Linked DNA regions of Homo sapiens. The protein of the gene in region 5 interacts with the protein of the main gene of each other region in a pairwise test. Each region holds a gene or a part of one and is shown on either strand. Other genes may lie near its edges.

Region 1 (3,500 bases), on a different chromosome or scaffold from region 5:
TGGGTCCCACTCACCAAAATGGGCTTTCTCTCTCCAAAGACAGGTACCCTTCCAAAGGTTAAGAAGCCCAAGAGTTTATTTGGAATAATTTTATTGTTTTAATGTTATGTTAAAAATCTAAATTATGTAAGAACACTCTCTTTCCTATTCACAACCAAAACTTTTTTTTTTTTTTAGAGACAGAGTCTCACACTGTCACCCAGGCTGGAGTGCAGTGGTATGACCTCAGCTCACTGCAACCTCTGCCTCTTGGGTTCAAGTGATTCTCCTACCTCAGCCTCTCTAGTAGCTGGGATTACAGGCATGCGCCACCATGCCCAGCTAATTTTTGTTATTTTTAGTACAGATGGGATTTCACCATGTTGAGCAGGCTGGTCTTGAACTCCTGACCTCAAGTGATCAACCCACCTCGACCTCCCAAAGTGCTGGGATTACAGGCGTGAGCCACTACATCCGGCCCATAACCAAAACTTAATGCCATGCAGCACATATTAGTAGTATTCAACTCAGGTAAAGAAAAGTCTATTTCTGTAGGACACACACTTAACAAGTGAAATGCTGGGAGCAATTTAACTAAGACTTCACCAGTTCTTTAAACAGAAAGAAAAGACTCATGCACATGGTCTTTTAAGATTTACAATTTTTATTTTTTCTACAAAATCATGGTAGCAAACCAATTATTTATAACTATTTACCTTAAAATTAAAGCTTTCTTTTGGGAATTTTTTTTCTTTTTTTCAAGATGGAGTCTTGCTCTGTCACCCAGGCTGGAGTGCAGTGGTGCAATCTCAACTCCCTGCAACCTCCACCTCCCAGGTTCAAGTAATTCTCCGGCCTCAGCCTCCCAAGTAGCTAGGATTACAGGTGCATGCCACCATGCCCAGCTAATTTTTTGTATTTTTAGTAGAGACAAGTTTCACCATGTTGGTCAGGCTGGTCTCCAACTCCTGACCTCATGGTCCACCTGCCTCAGCCTCCCAAAGTGCTGGGATTACAGGCGTGAGCCACCGTGCCTGACCCAGGGAATTTTTTAAATCAGTTTTCGTGTAACTAATTTTCTACCACTCAAATTCATAAATTCATTTAGCAAAATATCAAAATTTTCAAGATTTCTACAAATGACAATTTTAAGTAAAATAATATGTTTTGGTAGTTAATCAAAATGATAGCTGACACCTAAAATGGAATTTGGGGAAGATACAGAAAAATAATTCTGAGAGGAGAGGCCATAAGGCAGCTGGTATTGGTAGCCTTTGTAGAAAGGCAACATTTAGCTGCATTATAATTATAGACCGGGCTGGGTGTGGTGGCTCACACCTGTAATCCCAGTACTTTGGGAGGCCAAGATGGGCAGACTGCTTGAGTCCAGGAGCTCAAGACCAGCCTGGACAACATGGCAACACCCCGTTCCTACAAAAAACGGTACAAAAAAATAGCCAGGTGTGGTAGCATGCTCCTGTAGTCCCAACTACTTGGGTGGCTGGGGCTGGAGGGTCGCTTTAGCCTGTGAGGTGGAGGCTGCAGTGAGCCATGCTCCAGCCTGGGTGACAGAGTGAGACCTTGCCTCAAAAAAAAAAAAAACAAAAAACAAGCAATCAAACGCACACATAATTATAGACTGGAATATCTGGTAAAACACTAAGTAACTTTCAAAAGAAGGCAAAGAGAAGATAACGTTTTATATCATTTAAAAGTAGTATTTCCCTTTGACTACCGAGCATAGAAAGTGGTCCTTGAGGCTGGGCACGGTGGCTCACGCCTGTAATCCCAGCACTTTGGGAGGCTGAGGTGGGCAGATCACCTGAAGTCAGGAGTTCGAGCTCAGCCTGGCCAACATGGTGAAACCCTGTCTCTATCAAAACTACAAAAATTCACTGGGCGTGGTGGTGGGTGCCTGTAATCCCAGCTACTTGGGAGGCTGAGGCAGGAGAATCACTTGAACCTGGGAGGCAGAGGTTGCGGTGAGCCGAGATACCACACCACTGCCCACTGCACTCCAGCCTGGGTGACAGAGCAAGACTCCGTCTCAAAAAAATTAAAATAAAATACAATAAAATAAAATAAGGTTAGGACTGCTGATATTGGGAATGGGCAAAGAAGGGAAAAGTAACTACTTTTCCCATCCAGCTCCTGACAGCCACAATGTACTGAATGTCTTGTGCTGGCGTCCCATCAGTTAAGAGCCTCATGCTGCAGGAGCTCCCCAGTCTCAACCCTGCATCCTACTCATTAGGAAACCACTACCACACAGGCGGCAAATCACTGATAATAAAGCCAGCCTTAGGGCTGAAAACGAGTCACTAGAACACCAGCAAAATTTCCATAATCCCCAAAGAGTTAACGATTTGCTCAGATTTCAAGTAAATTGTTCTTATTTATTTGGGTGAACATTATACAGTGTTCAAGTTCCATAACTTTTTAAGTGGAAATACAGTACAAACGTAGCTAAAGCTAATTCCCTTTTTTCAGTTCAGACGCTTGGAAATGAAGACAAAGGGATAGACAATTATCGCTGGCTGTGAGCTGTTGTGGGCACTCCATTATCGACACATTCCTGAATAGGTGCTGAATTCCAGCCAGCTGTAGTCCAGACCGGCATCACTTTTTAAAAATAACCACTTTCTCTCTTCTTCAACATAGGTGATGGCTGCACAACACGGAATGTACCCAATGCCACTCAATTGCACTTGAAATCTGATGTGACTATGTGACAGTTATGTTACGCAACTTTTACCTCGATAAAAACACATCGTTTTCTCCACTCTTTTCAATAATTTAAAGATTGGCTTAATAAATAAGGCTTCCCTGAGTACAAGAGATGAAATCCTACTCTTAGGTTTGCAGTTAATCCAGGACTGCAATGAGGATGAACATTTAGCGCCATGTTGAATCTCAGTAGAATTCAAAAAACACATAGATTTCCAAAATAATCAGAAAAAGCACTTAATATCTGCTTCAGTTACTGGGAAGGCTAACACATGAAAGGCAAGCTGTATGATCTGTATTCTTTCCACGCCCAAGAAGAGAACAATTCAAGCCACATGACTTAGAATAATGGTTGGCAGAACTCCACCTCTGAAGAGTCTACAGAGGTACCATTACTCCATTAGTGATAATAGCTATTGATCTCCTGGAAGAGCCTGGGGGGGAGGGGGAATGGAATATTTAAGATAGAAAGAATTTGAAAGTCTATTGATCCCACTAGGAATATTTAGAAAAATTATGATAGCCTTTTGCCACCTTTGCCCTCCCACCCCTCATTGAGTTAAACTGCTTAACTCAGTAACTTCAACAAAATTAGTAACCCTGAACCTTTTCTCCCCAAGGCAAGTACCAGTAGCCTATTTAAAATATTAACTTCTCAAGAGACTAGTAAAAGTCAAAGGACAAGACAGTATTGTCTAATACGTAGGATACATCTAGGTGTTCACTCTCCTTCAATACAAGACTAAACATCTGTCTTAAAAGACCTAACATTCCTCTTTCCTTCTTTTCAAAAT
Region 2 (4,327 bases), on a different chromosome or scaffold from region 5:
GTATATTACTTTTATATAAACTTCAGGCTTTATTCAGCTTCTGGACTTTTTCTGTTCCATGATCTAATCCAGGATATCACATTAAATATATTTCCAGTGTGATGTTTATTTTCTTCCTTTTACTTACTGGGTTTGATTTGTTCTTCTTTTTCTAGCCTCTCAAAGTGGAAGCTTACAGGATTGATTTTAGACCTTTCTTCCTTTCTAATATAAGCTCTAAAGCTATTTATTTCCCCGTAAGCATTGCTTTGCTGCATCTCATAAATTTTTTTCCATACAGTGTCACTCTCAGGATATCATACTTTTTTTATGTTGTGTTTTCAGCTTCATTAAACTTGGCATCATTTTTAATTTTCCTTGTGGTTGTTTGATTTCTAAATATTTGGGGTTTTTTTGATATCTTTCTGTTGTTAATTTTTAATTAATTTTATTGTGTTCAGAGAATATACTTTGTATAATTTTAGTCTTTTTGAATGAATGAATGAATGAATGAATTGATTGATTGACAAGGTCTCACTCTGTTCCCCAGGCTGGAGTGTGATAGCATGATCATAGTTCACTGCAGCCTCAACCTCCTGGGCTCAAGTGATCCTCCCACGTCAGCCTCCTGAGTAGCTGGAACTAAAAGTACATGCCGCCACGCCCAGCTAACTTTTTTTTTTGTAGTAGAGATAAGGTCTCACTATGTTGCCCAGGCTGGTCTCGAACTCCTGAGCTCAGGCAATCCTCCTGCCTTGGCCTCCCAAGGTGCTGGGATTATAGGCCTTAGCTACCATGCCTGGCCTATTTTGTCTTTTTTTTTTTTTTTTTGAGACAGTCTTGCTCCATTGCCCTGGCTGAAGTGCAGTGGCATGATCTCACTGCAACTTCTGCTCACTGCAACCTTTGCCTCCTGGGTTCAAGCAATTCTCCTGTCTCAGCTTCCTGAGTAGCTGGGACCACAGGCACGCGCCATCACACCCAGCTAATTTTTGTACTTTTAGTAGAGACAGGATTTCTCTGTGTTGGCCAGTCTTGTCTTAAACTTCTGACCTTAGGTGATCTGTCCACCTAAGCCTCTCAAAGTGCTAGAATTACAGGCGTGAGCCACTGTGCCTAGCCCTATTTCTTCTTTGTTGCCTTCTTAAAGTCAAACAAACATTTCAGAAAACCACTGTCATTCTTCTGATTTTTCTTTTTCTTTTTCTTTTTCTTTTTCTTTTTCTTTTTTTTTTTTTTTTTTTTGAGATGGAGTTTTCGCTCTTGTTGTCTAGGCTGGAGTGCAATGGCAGGATCTCTGCTCACTGCAACCTCCGCCTCTTGGGTTCAAGCGATTCTCCTGCCTCAGCCTCCTAAGTAGCTGGGATTACAGGCATGCACCACCATGCCTGGCTAATTTTGTATTTTTAGTAGAGACAGGGTTTCTCCATGTTGGTCAGATTGATCTCAAGCTCCCAACCTCAGGTGATCCACCTGCTTCGGCTTCCCAAAGTGCTAGGATTACAGGAGTGAGCCACCACACCCGGCCCCTGATTTTTCTTTTTTTTAGCTTTCATAAAAGGGGTTGCATCTGTACCTAATCATAATCTATTACAAATTAATACTGACTTAATTCTGGTAAAAATACAGCCATTTTGGCTGGGCGCGGTGGCTGACGCCTGTAATCCCAGCACTTTGGGAGGCCGAGACGGGCAGATCACGAGGTCAGGAGATCGAAACCATCCCGGCTAACACGGTGAAACCCCGTCTCTACTAAAAATACAAAAAAATTAGCTGGGCGTAGTGGCGGGCACCTGTAGTCCCAGCTACTTGGGAGGCTGAGGCAGGAGAATGGCGTGAACCTGGGAGGCGGAGCTTGCAGTGAGCCAAGATCGCACCGCTGCACTCCAGCCTGGGCGACAGAGCGAGACTCCATCTCAAAAAATATATATATATACACAGCCACTTTGCACCAGCATACTTCTACTTTCACTCTCTTCCTGTGTGATACTATTGTCAAATATATTATAGCTACATGTTTAAAGCCAATAATCTAGTGTTATAATTACTGCTTTAAGCAGTCTCATGTTTAAAGAAGGTAAGGGAAGAAAAGAAAAATATGTATTTACCCAGATATTTATCACTTCTGTTGCTCTTCATTCCTTCCTGTGGATCTGAGTTATCATCCAGTGTCATGTTTTTCCAGCCAGACGGTTTCCTTTAATATTTCTTGCAGTACAGTTCTGCTGACAGTGGATTCCCTCAATCTTCGTTTACCCAGGATATAGAATTTTTTTTTTTTTTTGTGACAGAGCTTTATTCTTGTTGCCCAGGCTGGAGTGCAGTGGTGAGATCTCAGCTCACTGCATCCTCCACCTTCCAGGTTCAAGCAATTCTCCTGCCTCAGCCTCCCAAGTAGTTGGGACTACAGGTGTGCACCACCACGCCCGGCTAATTTTGTCTTTTTAGTAGAGACAGGGTTTCGTCATGTAGTTCAGGCTGGTCTCAAACTCCTGGCCTCAGGTGATCCACACGCCTTGGCCTCCCAAAGTACTGGGATTACAGGCGTGAGCCACTGTGCCCGGCCCTACCTGGGATATAGAATTCTTGATTGACAGAGTTTTCTTTCAGTACTTCAAATACGCCATCCCTGTGCCCTCTGGCCTCTATTATTTTTGATGGAAAGTCAGAGGAAATTATTTTTGTATCATGTATATGAGTCAGTTTTGTCTTGCTGGTTTTAAGGTTTTCTTTTTGTCTTCTGGTGTTAGTTTGACTGGGATGTATCCAAGTTCTTTCTTAATCCTACTTGAGGTCCATTTAACTTCTTGGGTATGTAGATTCAAGTTTTTCACCAAATTTGGAAGTATTTCATCTGTTATTTCTTCATGGTTTTTTTTTTCTGTTCCCTTTTGTCTCTCCCTGCTTTCTGGGATTTCCATTACATATATGGTGGAATGCTTGACATTCATCTTTTCACAAGTCTCTGAAGCTTTGTTCATTTTTCTTCAATTTTCTCTCTGTGCTTTGGATTGGATAATTTCTCTATATGGGTATCTATATATTCTAGTTCATTGACTCCTGTTGTGACTCTGCCACTTAGCCCCTCTAATATGTATTTCATTTCAGTTTTTGCATTTTCAACTCTGGAATTTCTATTTGGTTCCTTATTTCATAGTTTCAGTTTCTCTTGAGATTCTCTTGTTGATTAAGTATTAGTATATTTTCATTTAACCTTTTAACTTAATTTCCTATCGTTCTTTGAGCATATTTATAAATCCAGTATCTGGGATCACTGAGAGTCAGTTTTATTGACAGGGTTTTTTGTCTTGAGTGTAGGTCACACTTTCATGTTTCTTTGCATGTCTCTTATCTTTTTGTTGAATATTGACTTTTAGATAATCTAGCAACTCTGAGTTTTAATTTATTTTCCTGAGAGTTCCATATCCTAGTTATTCTTTTCTTTTTTTTGAGACGGAGTCTCGCTCTGTCGCCCAGGCTGGAGTGCAATGGCGCAATCTCGGCTCACTGCAAGCTCCACTTCCCGGTTTCACACCATTCTCCTGCCTCAGCCTCCCGAGTAGCTGGGACTACAGGTGCCCGCCACCATGCCTGGCTAATTTTTTTCTATTTTTTTAGTAGAGACAGGGTTTCACCATGTTAGCCAGGATGGTCTCGATCTCCTGACCTCGTAATCTGCCCGTCTCGGCCTCCCAAAGTGCTGGGATTACAGGCGTGAGCCACCCTGTAGGCCTCTGTTCAGTTTTTTTATTTTAACTTTTAATTTTTTAGCTTGGCTTCCAAGTATTGACTTTTTTATTTCTATTTTTTGGAATAGTTTAGCTAGTGAGGCGAATGCATTCAGAGTTACATTTAGTTCTGACGTCTCCCTTGGCTTTGACTTCTTCAACATTGTGTTGATGCATGATGATTAGCTTATTTGCTTTTTGCAGCATGGTATTCCATTGTATGAATATGCCACAGTTTATCAGTTTTCCTGATTGTGGACATTGATTTACATTTTTTGAGATTACAGATAACACTACTGCAAATATTCTTGTACATGTCTCCTGATGCACATGTGCAGGAGTCTTTTTAGTGTATATACTGTAAGAGAGTCACTAGTTCTTAGGATATAGAAACCTCAACTTTATTTGATATATATTTTTTTAGACAGTATCTCACTCTGTAACCCAGGCTGGAGCACAGTAGTGCTATCATAGCTCACTTCGACTTCAGCCTCCCAAGTAGCTGAGACTACAGGCAAGTGCCACCACGCCTGCCTGATTTAAAAAAAAAAAAATTTGTAGGTTGCTCACAGTGGCTCACACCTGTAATCTCAGCACTTTGGGAGGCCGAGGCGGGTGGA
Region 3 (3,972 bases), about 75 Mb from region 5:
TTTCTTTAATAATAAACATTCAACTCTGAACTGGGGCAATTTCACTACATACAGATGCAGTCCGCCTTTTATTCCATATAACCATCCTGCCTTCCTATATCTACGCTATTCAGTAGGTTCCTGTGTCAATTCTTATGTACATGTGGAGCAAAAAAGATAAAAGAATGTAGTGCTTTGTATTCTTAATGGGGTGATGTTGATAGATCAGCGAACCTGGGGTGCATAACCTTCTTTCATTAAACCTTCCTCGTAGTCCGTCTGGCAAAGGATCATGTTATTCTTTAGGAAAAATTTGTCTCCAACACAAAATCTGAAAATATTTTAAACAATAAAATGTGGTTAAGACCATTTCACTTGGATCTAGAAATTTGAAGATTTATTTTCCTATTAATAGTTTCGCATGGTAATTCCCTGAATCTGAAAACCTGGCTTAGACAGTTGTCTTCATTATCAGAATTAGACCATTTACCATTTACTTCATTTAATGAAATGTTGCACACATTTGAAATCTTGCCTTTGCATGCAAAAATTCTAAGGATATTGAGATAAACACTTTGGGCACCAAAGATGACTTGCTTTTTTTTTTTTTAAACCACACTGGAAAGAAAAAAAATAAAAAGAACTGATCTGTATTTACACCCATTAAAATAAAAGAAAGAATGATAATAATGTTTCACTGCAGTAATTATGGATGATTTCATCTCTGGCCATTTAGGCACTTAATAAAAAAGTAAAAGGCATTAAAATGAATCAAACAATTAGAAAATAGCCTATTTTAAAGCTTCCCATTTAAAGCTTTCTTTTACTCTGTTATTAAAATGTGATTAAATGTTAGTAATCTAGAAGTGATCATTCTGAAATGAAAGTTGCTCTAGCATCAGATTCTGATGCTGAGCCATTTTCCTTTGTTTGTGGCAAGTTCACCAACATGAAATAGTAGATGTCATTTCTTAGAGCACTTCCAATTCAACCAAAGGGAGTAACCTAAATGAACTACTTAATATTGATGTGATAAACTAAACTAGTTTCCAATAGCTAATTATGCATTTTATTTCATAAAGCATTGTTTAATGTGCAAGACTGCAATGTTTTTAATAAGTGTTCTTTCTGTATGATTTCCCCACGGTGACACTTTGGACACAATTAAGGTCAGAAATAAATGTTTTTTCTGTTTCTGGTACATTTAACAATAAAGTAACTCTGGGGAGATCTGTATATATATTTAATTGTAACAATTTAACCTTCAAATAGTGGTGTCTGGTAGAGTTGACCCAGTAAAACTACTTGTAATTATACAAGTTGACCTCTATGACCTTTGATAGTAGTCTCTCTTTATCAGATAGTCAATTTCAAATGATGTTCCAGCAGAAATCTTAGTGGATAGATTAAATTGTGTAGTGAAAGCCACCCTTTAATGTTTTGTGAAGTTGAAGGTTTAAATGAGGAGCAGTTGGACTGATTTACATTTGCAAAGATTGGAATGCTAGACAAACAGTGAACCTATTTTTTTCCAACTGGGTAGCTTTGGAAATTTATCCTTATACTAGCTAAGTAGATAGAGAGGAAAATAGTGTAATAAAAAAAGTAGACTGAAAAGAATTAGCTTTCCTCTTAAAGGAAAATTGGTCTATTTGTGGAATTTACTTTTTTTCCCCAGGATTACTGCCTGCTGATGATGTTGATTGAAAGCACAGACTATGCACTGATCTTGAAATCCTAGGGTTGTTTGTGGTCAAAGCTACTGGATACAATGAACATTCAAGTTTGGGGCTTTAAGTATATTTTCTTTGTATTAGTTGTAACCTGTATACTTTAAATGTTGCACTTCAATAATGGTGTTTGTGCAAGCCAGTTTGATATCCTTATCAAATGAAAAGTGTCTGAAAGGCAGAGAGGTATACTGCAACCAGTAGGGTCCAAACTCTACCTTCCCACTTATGATAATTGAAAATAAAACTTTGGTTTTTAATACCTGTGACATCAGTCGACTTTGTAGGCTTGTGGCAAGGAGTAGAAATGAAATATCTAAAATCTTACCTCAATGTTTGAAACATAGGTAAAATAGCCACCTTTTTATGCTTACCATGTGCTAAATGCTAAGCATGTATGTACATGATCACATTTATTCCCTACATCCAACCTAGAAAGTAAGCATTGTCATGGCTTTTTACAGAAGAAAAACCTAAGACTCCGTGCCAGAATTTCAAAGCCCTGCCCAAGATTCTGTAGTTAAAACGTTTATAGTAAAGGAAGAAAAATAACCCAGGCCTTTTTGGATTCAAGACTCAAGCTTTTACCTGAGGGCAGTAAAGCATGCAGGCTACAAGAATAATGTGAAGATTAAATGGTTATACAGGGTGTAACTGTGTTTTTTGTATTACTATTATTTCTTTTGCATAACTTTAAAAAAGTCTGCCTACTATTCAATTAAGTGGTATATATAGAGCAACAGAGGCAGAGCGAGAGAGAGACAGAACTTTTCTAAAATATTCCTACCTGACATATTTTATTACTAATATGTTATCAACTGGATAAAGTGCATTTTATATGCATTTCAATTTATACTTAAAGGTCAAGATGAAACGAACATGGATGAGGGATGTCACACTTGCACATATGACTCAAACAAAACAGCCTTGAAAGCTGTGGTTAAGAGCAGATTACGACTGGTATGCAATTAAGGTTGACATCCTCTTTAAAAAATGCTTCATATATAAATATAAAGAAATTTCAGAGACAGCAATACAGATAGTATGTATTTAACAAATTAATCTGTAACTGTGATTTTGTAAGAAATGCTAATTTCCAGTGTGATTTAACCAACTTCTTATGAGATTCAGCATTTGCAGGAAAAAAAAAAAAAAGCATTATGAAAGGAGTGATAGCCAGAGGATACTGTAAGTATATTAACAGGCTACAATTACTAAAAATAAACATAATCTTTCTTGTAATCTGACCCTAATTACTTGTAGTATGCTCAGTTCAATTAATTTTACCCTCATTTAAAAAAATTATGGTAAGGAATAAGAAGATGCCCAATTAGATTATTAAACCATCTAATTCTGATGTTTTGGAATTAATATGAGATGTAATTTCTAGATATTTTTGAGTGATTTAGCTGACTTCATATAGTCTTAGAGACTTGAGAAGTATATGAAACAAGTGTAAATAGTAAATCATCCTTATAAAATATAGTGCTTAGTTTTAAGCAGGTTATCAAAAGCCTATGCTAAGAAGCCTCCACTGGTAACATCCCTTTTAAGAAATAAAAATGTTAGCCTAGCCATCTTCTTTCCCTAATGTTAGTGACTGACAATTATGATTAATTTCTATCTTACAACACTTAGCTAGGGAGCTCCAATCCATATTTCTAGTGTCTATACTTTCCTATTCCACATCTTCAGTTAACTGTAAGTTAGAGATTTCTATACTATACTGTTTTCAATAAGAAGTCCGGGTTGTGTACTCATTCCTCCACTATACACCTGTGAACAAATTTACTGTCTTTCCCACTGACAGTCCGGTTGTCATTATACATCTCACTGCTAACAACCCTTAGTGTATCAAATGACACTACCCACACCCCAAATCTTGCTATACATTATTCAAAGTTTACCTTACTTTAAGTCCACTATATCTATTCACATTTATATGCTCTTAGTCAGAAAATAAAATACCTCTCTTGAAATGGGCCTGACTCCGGAGAGGGAGACCAGATTCGCTCCGCCTCCCGGGTTCCCGCCATTCTCCTGCCTCAGCCTCCCCAGTAGCTCTGACTACAGGCGCCCGCCACCTCGACCGGCTCATTTTTTTGTATTTTTTAGTAGAGACGGGGTTTCACCGTGTTAGCCAGGATGGTCTCGATCTCCCAACCTCGTGATCCGCCCGCCCGCCTCGGCCTCCCAAAGTGCTGGGATTACCGGCATTAGCCACCGCGCCCGGCCAGGTTTAAATCTTGAGTCTACCACTTTC
Region 4 (4,327 bases), on a different chromosome or scaffold from region 5:
ACTTTCATGGAGATTGAACACGCAGAGTAGAAATGCACCAAACAGAGGTTTTGACATCAATGTGTAGAGGCTACTATGTAAACCAAGAAAATTAATACAGCAAGGACAAAGGAATTGTACACACCCATGGTGAAAAGATATTTTTAGGTAAAGAAACATGTAAGTGCATGAGGAGCTTAAATGTAAAGTCAAAGTTGTAGAAAGTTGGGCAAAGAATTAAATAGATGTAAGCACAATATTTATTTAATATTCTCCTGCTGTTTCCCAACAGAAACATTTCTATACATTTATGAGACCCAACTCCAAAAGCATACTGGAATGGAATTAAAGACCGAACTACAGAAGCTAAAGAGAGCTGATCAAACTAAAAAAAAAAGTTAAAGGTAAAGAAACCAACTTTAGTATAAATCATGTTCCAATTAAATTACAGCTCAATGGGTTATGAAAATGCTTAAAGAAAATAAGAAGACACATGAACCAGAAGAGAGCATTAAAAGGGTTTTCTTTTTCCTGGAGATATTTTTTATAATGATGTTTGTTCTGACAGGAGTTGATCATACAAATTTTATAGCTGAATAAATGTGTGTGGTTTGGGAACATGAACACTGTCTCAGAGAACAAGGAAAGAAACTTAAGCAAAAAGTATAATTTTAAAAAGAGTATAATAATAGTGTTGCACAGTCATTCCTAACTTGGGTTTCTAAACCATCTACAAAAGCAGTGGTGAATGAATAATTTTAAATACAGTAGTACAAAAATACTTTAAAAATTCAATGATGAAGCTATCCAGACCAACCATATAGTCTGATTGAAAAATATGCATTTGATTTTTTAAACAAAAATGAGTAAATGTGCATCATTTCCTTTAATTTCTCAGTCCCGCTGCAATGGGATTTGTGCCCCTGATATGGTATTAGCACATAAGCATTACTATAATATTAATGGCTCTGCATTCTAGAAAACCAAAACAAGAGAAATAACACAACTAAAATGTGGTCTTTGTACACACTAATAAAGTATACAAATGTGTGGCAATATTTATCAAGCAGAAAGACAGAAGGCAATGATAAACACTTTAGGAATAAGAAAGGTGCTATCACTAAATAATGTGAAAAAAATTTAAATAATAGTATGAAAATGTTATGCTGCTAAATTTGAGAACCCAATATAAGGAAGGAGTTCTTAATCAAGATACCAAAAGCACAAAACATAAAGGAAAAGACAATAAATTGAACTTTATTAAACTTAAAAGCTTCTTTTCATCAAAAGACTCTATAAGCCAAGCCACTGACTGAGGGATTATGTTTGAAATGTATAGAGCTGATGATCAATCCATAATTCATAAATTCCTACAATTTAATTAAGGAAGAAAAAACTAGGTGACAAATGAGTAATCAACATGAATAAGAAATTAATGTAAGAGAACAGCAAAAGCCAATAATTATGTATGCAGCTTCCCTATATTTTTAGTAATCACTTCACATCTACCAGACACCAAGTGTTGTTGAAGATACATAGCTATGAGAATTCTTGTACTCTCTTGATGGGGATATATATCAGTACAACAGACTTGAGGACAATTTGGCACCACTCAGTTAAGCATGGGTGAATCCTATGACCCAGCAATACAACCCCTAGGTATTTCTCCTAGAAAATCCTGAATAAGGAAACAGGTGAAAGAATGCTCACTGCAGTATTAGATCTTCATAGTGGCTATCTATGAGAAGGAAAGAAGAGATAAGGATTTAATGACAGATACACAGTGACCCTCAATTTATCTGTAATGTTTTATTTCTTAAGCTCAATATACGGTATATAGTTCTTCCTCATGCTATTACTCATACTTTGTTACTTGTCTGAATTTTTTTCATAAAAGTTAAAAAGATGATAAGACTTACCAAGCTATCCACATCTATGCTGGAGTTTACAGCCCACTGCAATGTACTCATGATATTCATGGCTAAAGTCAGGATAATACCAACTCTTCCTTCTCCTTCTCCTATAGATGCACAAAAGACGTAAATGAACCTCATGTTATTTCTCTCTTCTGTGAACGACTTTATTCACACTTCTCCTAGGGCACATATCACATTAAATTTACATTTCAATTTTATGCTAATTTTAACAATTTTTAAATCTCAGTTCATCACAGCATCTACTAATAGAATAATGCTCTGCATATAGTAAGTATTCAACCAGGATTTTAAATCAAAGAGCGATTGAATATTAGGAAAGTGTTGCCCTTTTTAAAAAATGTTACTGGTATTGGAGGTGTTGTTGGTAATGGGTAGGTACCATATTTGTCTCTTCTACTATTATTCTATAAGTAATAACGGTAACATATATTAGAATGGGCAATGGGGAAAAGAGATCCTGTATCCAGATGAGCTGCTTTACAAAGAGACCAAAAGCAGGGGAAGAGTGTCCAAACAGCATCTGCAAGATGTTTAGGTGTGTTCTGTGCCTTTGCAAGGAGGACCTTTGCTAATTGCATGCTATTGGGAAGTAAGTGGACTTAGAATTTCACCGGACAGTCAGAAAACTAACAGTTCTGCCATTTGGAAAGAGAAAAGATTACCCTCTATGCAAAAAAAAAAAAAAAAAAAAAAAAAGATTACTGTACCTGGGAAGAACAACACTTAAGTGTTAAATTACAGTAATTTTTTTTTTAGGGCTAAAGAGGACAGCTAATTAAAATTCATGTGTTCAGTATTATGGCCATAGAAATTCTCTAAGAGGAATGTTCTTAAATTATTATAAAGTTAGACTATCAAGTCCCAATCAAGAGTTCTTACATCTGTAATGCATGATAAAATTGTCAAAAGATTCTACAATTGGGAGAAATAATTCATCTTATTATTAATTGAAATTTTTGTTTCTGCAATTCCTCTAACAGAAGGCATAATATACACAGCATATATCTGCATGTAGTATTAAATTATTTTCATATAGGCAAGATTTATCTAGACCCCAATATATTACTGTTCTGAAGGTTAAGCTGAGAAGATAAAATTTTAATAATAAGTCAGATAACATTTATTTAGTATTTACCATGGACCAGGCACTATACTAAGTGTTTTGGACAAATTATTACATTTACTATTCACCCCACACCTATGGAATAGGTAATATTATTGTGTCTATTTACACTTGAGGAAAATGAGGGGCTTAGATAGTTAATTAATGTTTGCAAGTTAACACAGCTGAAGACCAATTGAGCCAGGGATAATAATAGCTGGGTGGCCAACATCCACTCCGGCTGAGCATCTGATTTGATTGGTAAGTTCTGTACTATAATGATTGTTAAATGTTTTGATTATTGCCCCTAATAAATCAAGACTCAATCACACTCAACCATGTTATAGCATGTGTTATATTGGTTTGAATTAATTGTTAACAAATCTTCATTTATGTAATTCAGCCTTCTTTGATCTTATTTTCAAATAACTTAAAAGAATTTTTTAAAGTTGCTTAAAATTACAGTACTGATGAGGATTAGTACATTTGCCTGCCCATGTATATTCCTTTCATAGAGTCATTTCCCACTGCCCTAGCTGAGAGAACAACAAAGGTGGTGAACCCACTATCCTCATAGCAGCAGAGTAGACTGCAGTTGGACCCCTGAGCCAAAAGGAAGCTGTTTTCTGTTCTCTCCAGGACTTTGAGTTTGTACAGAGGAACTCTCCTGTAAATTCAGGAGGCCAGAATGGAGACACTACATAAAGTCAATGTGGCATAGCCCTGGTAGACCAGAAAAACCAGTCTTCAGAGAGAGAAAGGAATGAAGCAACCACAAAAAGGAATGGACCCAGGACAGATATAGACTCAAGAAGAAGAGCTGCAGCTGACTCTCTTGTGCCTGTTGCAGCTTCTTTAAGAGTCGAATGGCACCACCTTCTCGGTGTTCCATGAGGCCTTTCTGTAACTCCAGCAAATGCCTGCTTTCGGTTTGAGTAGAATTCTGTTCCTACAATCAAATGATCCTACAGATTTGGCATTGATTTGGCATTTGCTCTGCCAGTATTCACTGTCACATATAAGAAGTTATTTCAACACTTATCATAAATACTCAGAAATTCAAATTCTTAAATTAGAGAAACAAATTTACCTACATAGATTTTTATTTTACTTATTATGAAATACTTTGTTTTTCACTAAAGATCCTAAAATCAATCCAGAACATTTGTATTTGAAAAACATGGCACTTTCTTTTCTTCTTTTTCTTTTGAAAAATGTGACACTGTCTTTCTTTTCTGTGACAGTTTTTCTTTGTGTAAAACTCACAATTAGATAACAAATTTTATCTAGTAGAGATTTAAAAAAAACA
Region 5 (4,010 bases):
GAAGTGTTATAAAGCCACTCTCAAGCAAGTTTCATGGCAGAAGTGTCTCATGCTATCTTAATGAAAGATGTATCTGCATTCCTTGCTTATGGATGAAGAAGTAGAGGGCTAGAGAGCTTAAATTAGTTAGAATATAGAAAAAAAAAATATTTATTCTCATAGATAGATAGATACATAGATAGATAGATAGATGATAGATAGATATGCTGTGAAAAGCAGGCTACTTTCTATTCTGCCTCCCTAGAAAAGAGTACTTTTCTGCTTTTTAATTATTTGTGATTTCAGTAACTTAATCATAGTATCACACTAAGTCGGTGTTTTGAAAAATATGCAACACTGAGCACCGGTATAAGAATCACCCGTGGATGCGCTTTAAAAATGCAAAATCCTATGTTGCACAATTCATTACGTCTGTATATCTGGGGCATGTCTGGTAACCTGGATGTAGAAATACACCCTTACAGGCTGGTTATATACTTACCATTTTGAAAAACACTACCCTAAATAGGGTGAGGATGGAGAGATGAGGAGAAAGCTGATAAAAGTTTCACCAGATTTTCTTCCCTCAGCACCTCACTAGGGCTGCCCAGTGAGTGAAGGAGTAAGTGGGAATCTTCTCTTCTCCAGCTTTGCCCTGAAAAGATGAAGTCTTCCCTCTAAAAAGAGGAGTTGTTCCTAAACAGGGTATATTCCTTTCCCAGATGCTTCTACAACAAAGTGTCACTAAGTGCTTAACTTTGTCTTTGTCAACCAACATTAACTACAAAGGGAACTGCTGTTTTAAAAGTCATAGTTTTGCTTCTTAGGCATGAGAATAACATAGGACTTTGGATAGAGAGAAATCAAAGGCTTTTAAAGATGCAGACAGACTGTCTGCTGAGAAGATGTTTCCTCTAAGTAGTATAGAGACAAAGCTCATTTAATTCCATCACATTCTTTCTAAAAGAGAATTTATGGCACATTATCTACCCTCTATTTGAGAATAGGTTTCCAAGGCTTGATAGTGACTTTTGTAGACAGGGAAAAGAAAATTCATTTTCAATTCATCTACATTATAGTTTTATCGAGAAAAAGTAGATTTCAAGTTTAAACCAACAAATAAACTGAGGCTGCTATCACACTCTAAGGAATTTACCTTAATGTAGAAAACTCATGAAAATCAAAAATACACATTGTACCTAATGTAATATCCATCGCACATATCTGCCAGTCAACTCAGTCTCAATGATGATCCTCTGATGAAAGGCCGCTGTACCATAAGATAGAGTTCACTAAAAGTGGTGTGTTAAAACATTTTATGCCTTAGAGATACATTTTATTTGTACTAGACACATATTTGACTATATATACACTGGTATGGGATGAGCAGACCTTTGTCTGCATAACATTTGGCTCCACACATAGGTTTTATTGTTAACTAGGTAAAACAGAAGTTATTTTTATAAATTATATGCAGAGTATTTATCATTGTATAGAATTGTATATACTCATAGAAAGCTGAAAGCTGTTATTACTGGATTATGAACTCAAAACCTATGATCCAGACATATTGGCTTCAAGCTAAAATGATTTTTTAAATATCTATTTCAGAAAATTTTATATTCATTCATTTTTAATCCTGTGAGTTATCCACCATTTCTTGACAACCAAGGAGTGAGTGCTGAGATCACATAGCAGCTTCTTATCTAATAGAATACCATTGTATATGAACCAGTAAAAACACCAGGAATGGGAATAATGACAAATATCTAAGTAAGTTGTGAAATCTAAGTACCTATTATAGGTGTTTTTAAGAACTCTTTGTAAGTGAATGCTAGAAGTAGACAAATTATTTAGTGGAAAATCCTATGTTCACATCAGTAAAATATTGCAGGCCAGAGATATCTTTTGATTTCTAATCTATTGTTTTATGTATTTTATATACAAAGTACAGAAATTTCACAAGAAGTCAAACACAGTGATGCCATTTGCTATGTTTTATTTTGCTAGTAGCTTATTAAACATAACATGCAAATAATCAAAGAGAAACATACATGACTTAGAGTGAAAAATAATTCTAGAAAAGTTTCACTAGGTAAGTATGCAAATTCTTATTCTAAAAATACTTCTTTAAGTGCATGAAGCTTCATGTATTTTGCAATATTCTTGGCCTCAATATCTACCACCTATTTTTTAACCAGACAAATTTGAATGTATCAAGATAATTTGGTGCAAGAGAGTAACATCCATATGTATTTAATCCAAGCTTTGAGGAACATTAAGATTTAAGGATTATAAAACTTGGCTGATTTCCATGCAACCAGTAAAAGGTTTTGCACATCATTTGACAGTAGAAATAAAAAAACACTAAATTTACAAATAAAGCATTGAGTTTGATGTCTATTCGTGTATATGTGTGTGTTCTTGTGATGAAATAGGCCTGCCTTTCATCTTTTCTTTAAAAAAAATAAATGTTTACAAAACATTTCCCTCAGATTTTAAAATTCATGGAAGTAATAAACAGTAATAAAATATGGATACTATGAAAACTGACACACAGAAAAACATAACCATAAAATATTGTTCCAGGATACAGATATTAATTAAGAGTGACTTCGTTAGCAACACGTAGACATTCATACATATCCGGTGGAAGACTGGTTTCTGAGATGCGATTGCCATCCAAACGCAAATGCTTGATCTTGGAGTAGGATAATGGCCCCAGGATCTTGCAGAAGCTCTTTATGTCAAACTCTAAAAATTAAAGAATAGAAAACATTAATCATTTTTCAGTACACTGGCTCAAAACAATACAAAAAATTTATGTTTAATATATTATAAAATAGGACCTCTTCCCATTTAGAAAAGTCATAATATAGTATATGTTTGAATTTGCAACCATTAAAGGCATATTTCAGGCTACCAAAATGGCACAGTAACATTTAGTAAAGAGTAATCATGGTAGATCAAGATATTCAGTGGAATATTTTAAATAACAGAACTTATTTTATTACTAGAAGTTGTTTTTAAAAAGGCATTCAATAAGTGTGTCATATTATCTAACAACTTTTTTGAAATAGTATAACCTGAAGAAATATAAATGGATCCCATTGTTGTATGAACAATCTCAGTATAAGTACTCTTTGGTTTTACATCTAAAAATAAGAAGGGTTAACTAGATGATCTATAAAGAATTTTCTAGCAACCACATACCATGACCATGATAAAAATTCCAAGACAAAAACCAAATCATTCCAGCAATCACACACCATAGCAATGATCAAAATTCTAAGGCAAAAACCTAATCATGGCATGTCCACCATCTGAACTCATGTTTTTGTTTATTTGTTTATTTTTGTCCATGGTCAAAAAGCTGCCACAAATGAAACACTGACTTACTTTGTAATAGAAACCAAGAGTGTTACTGAATTGACTGACCTGTGTATACACAGAAACTATGTTTGCCTATGTCTATTTTAGATTAACATTTTCAAGTCCTTTATCTTGTTTTCATTTTCAAACTCTAGTTAACAAAGACTTCAGTGGAACCCCAAACACACATGCTTTTTAAAATAACTCATCAGTTAATTCCAGGGATTTTTCTATGGTACCAACATTTGAGAAAGTGAGGAAAAATGGAAAGAAGATGGGCATAGTCCCATCTTGGAATTCTACCTCTGCCACTTACCCAGGTGGGCAACACTGGAACACTTATCTGATCTTGTTAGAAATAACACATCTATCTTACCGTGTTGCATGAAGATTAAATTAAGTTGTGTAGAGCACTTCACACAATACTAGTACATAGTATGTCCTAAATAATGACTAATATCCTTTTGATTTTGCTGTCTTTCTAAATTACTCTACACTAGGAAGATCTCTGATTGGGCTAATGCTTAGAGTTGCAAGTTTGAAATAGAAAACAGTTTGTTTTGGCTATATATTCCCTAATATTAGAAAAAAACATTGAGGGGAACTTTCTGTATTAAGTGAATGTGAAATGTTGATATAGTTGATTATTATCTGGCAAA
Region 6 (4,327 bases), on a different chromosome or scaffold from region 5:
AACACACAAAATCCATCCAATGTTTAATTCTAAATCTTTCCTGGAAAGCCCTAGAAAAGAGACCTGCTAGCTCCAAATATAAAGCAGCCCCCTAGATGTGCCCTGCTGGGCATTCCCAGTGCTCAGGCTCATTGGCCAGCCAGCTGTCACTGAAAATGGCAGAGATGGGCTTGGGCAACAAGATTATTTGCAGGCAAAGGGAAAGCAATGTTGTGTTTGGCTTCAGTCACACATACACTAAAGAGAAGCAACGCTTAAAGCCCAATGAAGAAAAAACAAACAAAAAGAAGTAGTAAGTCAAAGGAAGCTGCTTGAGGATACGGAAGAAAAGACCCAGTCCTGAGCCGAGCAGCGCTGGAACACTGCGTCTCTCGGGCTCCACCTCTGTGCCTCCCAGGATATCGCCCTTCCTGCAGGAAGCAAGAGACCCATGCTGATATGACAGGAGGTTTCTGATACCATTTCTTGTGAAGACATTGCAAACTATCAGCAGCATGCCAGGCGGCACCAGGGGAGCTCTGGACAGACTTGCTAAGGCTTCATTCACAGGCCCCCCTCAAAGTGCTCCCCACTGCAGGGCACTCAGAGTTATTACAGAGGTCAAAGAGAAGAGCCAGGCCAACCCGAAGGAGCCCACCAGACCTGGCAATGCCTCCTAGTAGAGCCCATCACTGCTGGAGACAGCAGCAAGCTTAGACCCTTCATCCAGGGGTGAGTTTGGGCAGAAAGTGGCCGAGACGCCAAAGCTGCAAAGGGGAAGGAGAAAAAAATTCAAAGTTCAAATGGTCCTTAGAGATCATCTGCTGCAATCTCCTCATTCTACAGGTTTTTATAGAAAAAGCAAATGATCAAAATACCCTGAGGTTAGTTATGTGGGAAAAAAAGATTCAGTAAGCAGGGCAGGAATACTTCACCCCACTTTCAGTCACAGATTTTAGAAAAGATATATGTAACGAATCCAAAATGCACAGCCATAAAAGGTGCTTATTTAGCCAAAAATAAAAAATAAAAAACTTTCACAAAATTAGTCTGCCATTGTTTTTAAATTATTACATGTCTTACCAATGCTCAAAAATATATCACAAGAGTTACAGAGACAAGAGAGTTAAACCTGGCAATCTTTTAAAGGCAAACTGAACAAAAATTAAAGTCATCTTGTATTATTAGAACAAGTCACAGGAAATGGGTCATCTCTCTAGGACAAGAGGAAAATTGCATTTGCCATCTGCAGAAAGAACGCATACTATAATGAAGGAGCTCTGCAAAGCGCAGGTCCTAAATATCAATTCACATGGCAAGAAAATACCAAAACAAACCCACCACAAAAATGTACTCAGGCTGATTGGGTATAACAAAAGTAAAGGCCACTGCTATTGCCATCACCCTTAACTATCTGTATGGAAATACAATCAGAAAAAGATGTTAAGGCTTGCAAGTCACTGAGAAGAGGGTTTTCAAATCATTAAGTGAGGAAGATGCCTACACATGCCTACAGCACCTTCTCCCCTTCCAGCATACGCACTGCATCCGATTCTGAAACCCACTGGTCCGTGATAGATTATCCAGCACTGGCTCACTAACTCTCTGCTGGTAATCATGAACCAATCTCAAGTCCCTGCCCTCTGGAAAAGGAAGGAGGATTTTACATTGTGTTCAGTAACAATTTATTTTTGCTTTACGGACCAGAGTAAGTATTGCAAAAGAAAGTTAATCATTGCCTAAACACACACTCACAAATTCCTTCCTTTGAATGTATTAAAGCACCCAACTTCCCCTCTCACCAGCTCACAGCCACATGATGTCTCACAGAAGCACCAACTTGGAAGTTCTCTAAATCGTATGCAAATGTGCAAGTCAGAGAATCTGAGGAACCTCTTTAGCATCTGTTTAAGAAAGATGTGATGAGGAATTAAATGGGTGGGTGGTATTCACATGAAAGGGATGGGTAGGGGGGCTACAGAAATCACTGGTAGACTGAAAAGGGACTGGGTAAATCACAGAAGCATTCCTCTTTAGAAGCAACTAGATGCCTGCAGTTACCAGTAAATACATGGTGGTAGAAGATCTCACCAATCACCCTGTTGCCCCTACAGTAAAAGAAAATGTAGGAAAGAAACAATAAAAATGAAAAAAATTTTTCAACATAAAAAAGAAACAAAAAAATTCTATTTCTATTTTTTAGCAAGTGATGCTGATTAAAAAAAAAATTCTTGGAAAGCACAATTAATTCATGATTTTAGTTTTCCAAAGGGAAAAAAAATGAGGCTATCTCCTAGAAATATATGTAACTATGTGTCTAAACATCACTGTTCGCTTCCGGTAACAGAGCCAAAAAGTCTGGCTAGATCTCTTTTTCTTTAATTTGTGGGTCAATTATGTGTGTATAAACACACACATATTGTATATGTGTGTATATACACACACACACACTATAATGGCATTAGTAACATTTTCGTTCCCAACTGCACCACAATCCATTACTTGAAAACAACTATTTTATTTCTAAAGCAGACATATTGTTCACAATCCATGATTAATCCTGTAATAAAGGTGCACAGATTGTCAGATTTCAAAGAACTTGTGTGTGTAACAGCTTTCCATTGGAACAGCTGGATCAATTGCTATTGGCTTTTAACTGGAAACAATATGAGAATGTTCAACCGAAACATTGTCCCAAGAGAACAAATGAGAGGAAGGCAAGAAGGCAAAAACTGTTCCATCTTTAAAACGGAATTCCTTTCACTGTGCGCCCGGTGGCCCACAAAACAGCAAAGAGGAGTGGAAAATGGAGGACATATGGATGATGCCTATTAGAAGAAAGCAGGGAATTTAAATTCACTTCTTCCGATTACCCTCCATTCTTTTTGGAATCCAGCTTTCCACACACATCCCTAGTTACTGATAATAGAATCATCAGGAATTGCGATAAAGATACAAGAGCAAGGATCTTTGCCTTCACGGAGCTTCCAATCCACTTAGAAACACAAGGTAAAATCATCCGCATTCCCCAGTCCTGTGATCCCCAGGAAGCTCCTACAATGGCCTTCAGATTATTTTGTCTCTTTCTGTGTATGAAAACCCAATAGAAAAGCCAAAGCCAGGAAGGATAAAGTCAGAAGGGCATGTCAGTACGAGGACATCAGCTACAATACAAGAACTATGCAAAGTGCTTAGTCTTTCCTGTCGGCAAATAAGACATAAGGAGCATCTCACACAGCACATTATTTGGCACATAGTAGGTGCTCATATTTGTTCATTTGACTAGCATTCTGCATGAAACTGTTCCTTCTTAAGTTATGCCTGGTTAAAAAAAAAAATTAGAGGAAATATTTTTTAATAACTGACAAGTATATGTTGAAAAAATGGATTTGAGATATCTTCATAATTTGATTTTTAAGTAATACTAATTTTGTTCTTTAAAATTAACCATAAAGGCTTTTAACAAAATATTCTGCACTGATTATGGCTATGTATAAAGGTTAACAACAGAGCTGTATAGTTAATCCAATTTGGGATTCTCGGCACTGCAACATGGACATTTATTTTTGTTTTTAAAGCCCAAATTCATGACCACCTAGGATGTGTTAACTCATTTCATCAGTATGCCTAGGTCCTTTTACTACATGTTAGATGAGAAATCAGACAGATTTTTACATATCGGTAATGTAACAAATCAAAGGTGATTGTTGAACAACTTCCTATAATTTTATTTTTTACATATCGGTAATGTAACAAATCAAAGGTGATTGTTGAACAACTTCCTATAATTTTATCAGTAACAGCTATTCACACAAAATAGTGTTTGGGTCTGAGAGCAGCTCTTTCTTTAATGTTACTCCATTCGGCAGAACAAGAGTAAACGTTCACGGTTTACTGTAGTCAGTTATTGCCACAGATTTAATTACCAACAATCGCACATTTTACCTTCTATTGCTATTTCACACTTCACTAGGATTAAGTCTGCAGAGATCTTAACATAACTTAAAAGGCATTACAAAAGTTTTCCTTTGAAAAATGTGACTGCCTCCCGTTCCAACCAGGAAATTTGACTTTAAAATTTGTTGCTTCACAAACTTGTATTTTCCTCAACCCAATACAGAGGAAACAGATTCCCTCCACCTTCTGAGGGAGAAAGCAATCCTAACCTCCTTATAAAATGGCTTCTGTCTCTTCCAAGATGTACCCTTTGAGCTCCCTATTTTCCCTCTACAACATCCAATCAACATTTCTACTAATATTAACAGAATATTAGTAGAATAACTCCCCTTAAAGAAAAATTAATATGAATGCTGGAATCAAAACCTTCCTTAGAGAATCTTGTTAATTT

What was found.
Region 1: the proteins of LUM (region 5) and YWHAG interact in binary tests that used the Homo sapiens proteins (3 or more experiments, as listed by UniProt).
Region 2: the proteins of LUM (region 5) and SETDB1 interact in binary tests that used the Homo sapiens proteins (3 or more experiments, as listed by UniProt).
Region 3: the proteins of LUM (region 5) and LMO3 interact in binary tests that used the Homo sapiens proteins (3 or more experiments, as listed by UniProt).
Region 4: the proteins of LUM (region 5) and CFTR interact in a protein complementation assay, tested with the Homo sapiens proteins (one large-scale study listed by BioGRID and IntAct).
Region 6: the proteins of LUM (region 5) and GNAQ interact in a two-hybrid assay, tested with the Homo sapiens proteins (one large-scale study listed by BioGRID and IntAct).

Annotation. Positions count from the first base shown.
Region 1 is NC_000007.14:76,352,492-76,355,991, forward strand, and holds part of YWHAG (14-3-3 protein gamma), read right to left. Parts: intron 1-3,500. UniProt on the Homo sapiens protein: Adapter protein implicated in the regulation of a large spectrum of both general and specialized signaling pathways. Binds to a large number of partners, usually by recognition of a phosphoserine or phosphothreonine motif.
Region 2 is NC_000001.11:150,932,576-150,936,902, forward strand, and holds part of SETDB1 (histone-lysine N-methyltransferase SETDB1), read left to right. Parts: intron 1-4,327. UniProt on the Homo sapiens protein: Histone methyltransferase that specifically trimethylates 'Lys-9' of histone H3. H3 'Lys-9' trimethylation represents a specific tag for epigenetic transcriptional repression by recruiting HP1 (CBX1, CBX3 and/or CBX5) proteins to methylated histones.
Region 3 is NC_000012.12:16,551,018-16,554,989, forward strand, and holds part of LMO3 (LIM domain only protein 3), read right to left. Parts: intron 311-3,972; coding exon 205-310; 3' UTR 1-204.
Region 4 is NC_000007.14:117,612,285-117,616,611, reverse strand, and holds part of CFTR (cystic fibrosis transmembrane conductance regulator), read right to left. Parts: intron 2,000-4,327; coding exon 1,899-1,999; intron 384-1,898; exon of another isoform or gene 272-383; intron 1-271. UniProt on the Homo sapiens protein: Epithelial ion channel that plays an important role in the regulation of epithelial ion and water transport and fluid homeostasis. Mediates the transport of chloride ions across the cell membrane.
Region 5 is NC_000012.12:91,101,587-91,105,596, forward strand, and holds the end of LUM (lumican precursor), read right to left. Parts: intron 2,734-4,010; coding exon 2,579-2,733; 3' UTR 1,043-2,578; downstream 1-1,042.
Region 6 is NC_000009.12:78,021,534-78,025,860, forward strand, and holds part of GNAQ (guanine nucleotide-binding protein G(q) subunit alpha), read right to left. Parts: intron 1-4,327.